2 separate regions of the Homo sapiens genome follow, and region 2 is linked to region 1. Evidence: fine-mapped expression QTL. A gene starts in region 1. The other region holds a variant in brackets. All regions are shown on one strand. Distances are between the middles of the regions. Region 1 holds the start of JMJD6 (jumonji domain containing 6, arginine demethylase and lysine hydroxylase). Region 2 overlaps MXRA7 (matrix remodeling associated 7).

Region 1 (2,824 bases):
TTTTTTTTCTTCTTGACAATGTCTTGCTCTGTTGCTCATGCCTGAGTGCAGTGGCCTGATCATAGCTCACAGCAGCCTCGACCTCTCGGGCTCAAGCAATCCTCCCACCTCACCCTCCGGAGTAGCTGGGGCTACAGGCACAAGCCACGATGCCTAATTTTTCTACTTTTTGTAGAGACGTAGTATCACTATATTGCCCAGGCTGGTCTGGAACTCCTGGTCCCAAGCGATCCTCCCGCCTCCGCCTCCCATTTAACTTCTCTAAAGCTGTTTCTTTAGCATGGGACATGCCTCACAGGCTGGTGTTAAAACCAAATGAAATACTGCAAAGTGAAAGTGCTTTGAAAAACCGAAGACAGGCAGGGCATGGTGGCTCACTCCTGCAATCCCAGCACTTAGGCAGGCGGGAGGATCACTTGAATCCGGGAGTTGGAGGTTGCAGTGAGCTGTGATCGCGCCACTGCGCTCCAGCCTGGGCGCCAGAGCGAGACAGTGTCTCAAAAAAAAGAAAAGAAAAAGAATTATTATTGAGAGTTTTGTTGTAGCTGTGAGCTTAGAGGAAGAAGCGAGGTCCAACCCAAGAAACACTTTGGGCACCAAATAAAACTGGAAACCCTGATCCCAAAACTCACACAAAAGTGAGAGATAAGGATGAATCAAGAAACCCTTGGACAAGATCAAAAGAAGCATTAGAGGTCAGTCAAGAATGTCACTTTCCTGGCAGGAAAGATTCGATGTGGAGAAAGCCGGCCCGGCGCAGTGGCTCATGCCTGTAATCCTAGCACTTTGGGAGGCCGAGGCAGGAGGATCACTTAAGCTTACAGTTCGAGACCAGCCTGACCAACATAGTGACCAGGGTCACTTCTTGGCAGGGTCTCCAAAATTCTTACTGAGAGACATTTAATGCACCGAAGGGCTTCATATCCGACGTTTTTGCTCCGGGGGTCAACCTAAAGCAGGAAGCTGCGCAGCTGAGCGTCCGCACCCCCGGTCCCTCAGGAACCCAGCCAAGTCAGCCGACATCCGCTCCTGACCTCAGGCGCCTCCTGGCGGGTGCTGCTGCACGCACCTGCGGGACGTGGACCTCCAGGACAGCCCCGTCGGCCCCCGGACCCGGCTCCTCCGAGAATCGAAAGCGCTGGGCCCGGACCCCCTGTCCTCGGAAATCGTGCTCGCCCAGTAGGGCGTCGTTGGGCCCCGGGCGGGCGGGGGACCGCGGAAGGCTCCGGGCTGCCAGACTGCGCGAGCGGGAAGCCGCGGGCCACGTGGCCGTAGCACCTGACGGCAAGAAGGGGAAAGCCCAGATCTGGTGATAACCCTGCCGCGCTGCGAGCGAAGAAAGCCCGGAGCAAGGCGAAAGAGACTCACACGCGCAGAACTGGCAACGGGCGGCTGGCGCGACCGGAAGTGATGGGCACAGCGGCAGCGCGGGAGGGGAGGGGCGGGGCGGGGCGGGGCGGTGACGCAGCCGACGTGACCTTCCCAACATGGCGGAGGCCCGCCGTATGTGAAGGAGTACCCCAGGGGAGCCAAAGCCAATGGAAAACCGCGAGAGGCGTCGGGGCGGGGAAGACGGCGGCCGCTTGCCCAACCCGAGGCTCGGGAGGTGGCTGGGGAGTGAATTTTCTGGAAGGCGACTTTAAAGGCGCCGGGACTGAGCGAAGGGCGTTTGGGTACTGCCGTCGCCGCCGCCCAGGCCGGGGAGGGGTGCGTTAGTGTCAGGAAGCGGGCTGCGCCGAGGTCGTAGCGGAACCAGCTGGCGACCCCGCAGAATGAACCACAAGAGCAAGAAGCGCATCCGCGAGGCCAAGCGGAGTGCGCGGCCGGAGCTCAAGGACTCGCTGGATTGGACCCGGCACAACTACTACGAGAGCTTCTCGCTGAGCCCGGCGGCCGTGGCGGTGAGCGGGTCGGGCGGGGGTGGCCAGGCCGGGCATCGGCACCTCCAGCCGCTACGCACCTTTCTCTGGGCCCGAGGCTGCCCTCGCCCCGAGCGCCCGGGACCTCGTAGAGGCTCACCCGCACCCCGCGGAGTTTGGGGTCCCCGAGGCGCGGATTCCGGGGCGGGTCTGCTTCCTCCCGTGCTGTGGCCGCCCGTCTGCTCTGGCGGACGACGGGAGTCCCACGCCTGTGGCGCTCTCAACTAGAAGGCCCGTCGTCCCTGACTCCTTTGGGCGGCGGGTCCCCTAGGGGACCTGGCTGTCAAGGCTCATGGGGGGTGGCTCTAGGAACGACGTGGCCTCACGCACGCGCCCTGCCCCCACCCCGGAGGAGCCAGACGAGAGTCAACTTCCTTCGGTTTGTCATTACCAGTTGGCCTTGGGGACACCCTTATCTGCCACTGGACTTTTTTTTTTTTTTTAACTGGACAGGTCTTTTTTAATTCCCTCAGGATAACGTGGAAAGGGCAGATGCTTTACAGCTGTCTGTGGAAGAATTTGTGGAGCGGTATGAAAGACCTTACAAGCCCGTGGTTTTGTTGAATGCGCAAGAGGGCTGGTCTGCGCAGGAGAAATGGACTCTGGAGCGCCTAAAAAGGAAATATCGGAACCAGAAGTTCAAGTGTGGTGAGGATAACGATGGCTACTCAGTGAAGATGAAGATGAAATACTACATCGAGTACATGGAGAGCACTCGAGATGATAGTCCCCTTTACATCTTTGACAGCAGCTATGGTGAACACCCTAAAAGAAGGAAACTTTTGGAAGACTACAAGGTGCCAAAGTTTTTCACTGATGACCTTTTCCAGTATGCTGGGGAGAAGCGCAGGCCCCCTTACAGGTAAAGTATTCTGCAGCTAAGTGGTTAAAATCCTTTTCTTTTT
Region 2 (2,896 bases), 40 kb after region 1:
AGAAGCCTCAACAGGCACCCACCTGGGAAAGGCCAAGGCCGAGGGCTTGGGGTGCACAGTCAAGAACACGCCTCAGCTCAGCATTTGTGAGCCGAGTCACTTTGGCCCATCGTTTGTACACAGCCCCCACCTGCTGGTTGACCATGACCACAGGGCAGGCGCTGCCACAGGGCGTGGGCAGGCTGGACCTTCGAGGGCCTCCTCTGTCTCCCCTACCTTCTGCCCCCCCACCACTTCCCATCACCCAGTCTGTGCCAAGGGCACTGACCCTGTCCTTGTCTTGCAGGAAGAGGAGCAGGACTTGGATGGTGAGAAGGGGCCATCATCGGAAGGGCCTGAGGAGGAGGACGGTGAGTGGGACCTCTGCGCTCATGAGGGGGCCTGACAGTGTCGGGGGTGGTCTGTGTCCTGCTGGGGATCACAGGAGCTGGGGTTCGAGTGCCGAGGGGAGGGATGGGGTGGGACAGTGGCCTGAGTGGGGCATGAGAGGTAGAGTCTGGCGCCATGGATGTCCTGCCCTGGCCTGCCTGTAGCCCTCCCTCACCCCCATTGCACTTTGGGGCTTGGCTTTCCCATCCCGGGGCCCCTCTTGGGAACACACTACACGCCCTGCCTGGCTCTGTCCTGCGCTGCCTCCTAACTCCCCTTTTGTGACCGCGCTGTACATTTCACGATTCTCTCCAAACATCTCTGACCTATTTTACTGAGACGAAAACCACTCACACGGCCTCCCCCGTGCCTTCTTCAGAACGAAGGCCCCAGGAGGGCACACGCCTGCTTTCTAAGCAGCTCTGGCTGACTGGCCACAGGCCCCAGCCATGAGACTGAGAGGAGAAAGGGAGTGACCGAGAACAGGGGAGACACTGCCAGATCGGACCCGGCCAGGACAGACAGAGGCGGAACCAAACATGGAGTGGCTTCTGCTGGGTCCATCCACTTATTTCTCTAAAAAAGAAAGCGGAGGCAGACATGCAAGATGTCAGCGTTTGTTGGCTCTGTGTGGCAAGCACAGGGAGGATTAGTGCTTTCTGCATTTTTGTATGTTTGAAATATTTCATAATTTTAAAAAAGCAAGTCTGCTTTTGTGATGTTAAGTCGGCTGCTGGCAGGAGCAGTGGAAAGAGAAGGTTTCAGGAATGTAGGAACCAGCTCCTGCGGGCAGGCTGGGCTGGGGTGCAGAGCTTCCCCTGAGGCAGTGCCTTGGTTTCCATCAGCACAGCCTGAAGCAGGAGGGGAGAATGAAGCTTGGGTGCAGGCGGTGGGCTGCAGGTGGGGACATTAGTCCCTTACCAGGAAGGACCCTTGCTCCCTGCTTTTGGGGACTGGGGACTCACCGCAGCCATGGCCCTGGCATCTGTCCCTGCCATGTGGCCTGAGACAGCTGAAGGGATGCAGGGATCCTGTTAGTGACTTGGGGACACGGGAGGGAGGCCCTTTGGCA[A/G]GGACAAGGAGAGAGGCTCGCAGACCCCTCTCCCTGGCATAGCTGCCAGAGGGCACAGTCCCCCAGCACTGTCACCAGCCTCCCCCCTTATCTGCACCGCTGCTCCTGAACATCCCCCACCCCCAGCGCCTCCTGCCATCTTAGCCTCCTGCCATCTCTAGCAAGGCAGGGAAAGGAAAGGTTTATGGCTCCAGCTGTTGGAAGAATGTGTGAGCACCTCCAGCCCCTCTGCAGTACGAGGCAGCCTCAGAGGTTAATTATTAGTGTCGCTAAAATGACTTCCCTGAGCGACTAGGTGAATTCACAGGAGACTGGAGGAAGAAACCTCCCCCGTCCCTCGGAGGCTGTCACGTTGAATTCTGGTCTAGCAAAACTGGATGCGCTGCCTGGTGCACTGCATGTGACTGAGCGAAATCCTTTTCAAGTCGTTTGTTCTGTCTGGCTCAGAAAACAAAACTAATCAGACTTGCCCCATAAATTGAAACCTAAGACTGGGACCAAGGCAGGATTTTGTATGTTTTCTTTTTTTGGGGGGTAGGGGGATACTGGAATCTTACTCTATTGCCCAGGCTGGAGTACAGTGGCGCGATCTCGGCTCACTGCAACCTCTGCCTCCCGGGTTCAAGCGATTCTCCTGCCTCAGCCTCCTGAGTAGCTGGGATTACAGGCGCCTGCCACCACGCCCGGCTAATTTTTTGTATTTTTAGTAGAGACGGGGTTTTGCCACATTGGCCAGGTTGGTCTCGAACTCCTGGCCTCAAGTGATCCACCTGCCTTGGCCTCCCAAGGTGCTGGGATTACAGGCATGAGCCACCACACCCAACCAGATGTTTGGGTTCTGAATTCGCATCTAGAACCTTCTTCCTTTCACCCTGAGAGCCCCCCCGCCTCCCCATCGGTCCACATCAGCCTATCCGGTAGCATGAAGGCTGCAAGCTAGAGGGGAGGGGCCTGGCTTTTCGGGCTGCTGGACAGGATATGGAGGGACAGAGAGGGCAGCACTTCCAGAATAGCAGCTGAGGATCTCTCTATGCCTCCCTCACTGGGTCCTTTAGTTAGTGGAGGTCGATAAGAGGCCAGCCAGCTCTGCCCGACACCTGCTGGATTCAGGAACCAAGAGGTTGCTCCCCCATGGGGCTTTTCCCTCTGGAAGCTCAGCTTTTCTCTCCTCACCGTGGCTCATGTGCCCGGAGCCTGTGTCCACTCCAGGCCACAGGTCCTGGCTTCCTCTGTGCCCACCACCTACCCATCCATGTGCCCTCTTCAGGCCTCGAGATCTGTCCGTTTTTTGCAGGCAGCAATGGGGGGTCTCCCCTCGGGGACTGGCAAATCGGGCTCTGCCTCTTCAGCGGTACACACGTCAAACCTGCTGCAGCAAATCCCGCATCCCTGGCCTGGCCACTGTGGGCTGCCTGGATGCGTGTTTTCAGATTTCCAATAGCCACAGGGGGTGGG

The links.
Region 2: its variant is fine-mapped to the expression of JMJD6 in whole blood (TOPMed, PIP above 0.99).

Annotation. Positions count from the first base shown.
Region 1 is chr17:76,725,424-76,728,247 of GRCh38, reverse strand. JMJD6 (jumonji domain containing 6, arginine demethylase and lysine hydroxylase) reads left to right here and starts at 1,642. Exons shown (of 6, transcript NM_015167.3): 1 at 1,642-1,901; 2 at 2,393-2,781. The coding sequence starts at 1,773. METTL23 (methyltransferase 23, arginine) reads right to left here and starts at 1,409. Exons shown (of 5, transcript NM_001080510.5): 1 at 1,070-1,409. RefSeq lists enhancers at 1-509, 1,140-1,769 and silencers at 1,029-1,478, 1,589-1,718.
Region 2 is chr17:76,685,567-76,688,462 of GRCh38, reverse strand. It overlaps MXRA7 (matrix remodeling associated 7), which reads left to right. Exons shown (of 4, transcript NM_198530.4): 2 at 287-350. Among named protein-coding and RNA genes, the nearest start is that of MXRA7, 24 kb to the left of the region's middle. RefSeq lists an enhancer at 1,072-1,867. The variant A/G (reference allele first, on the strand shown) is at 1,442.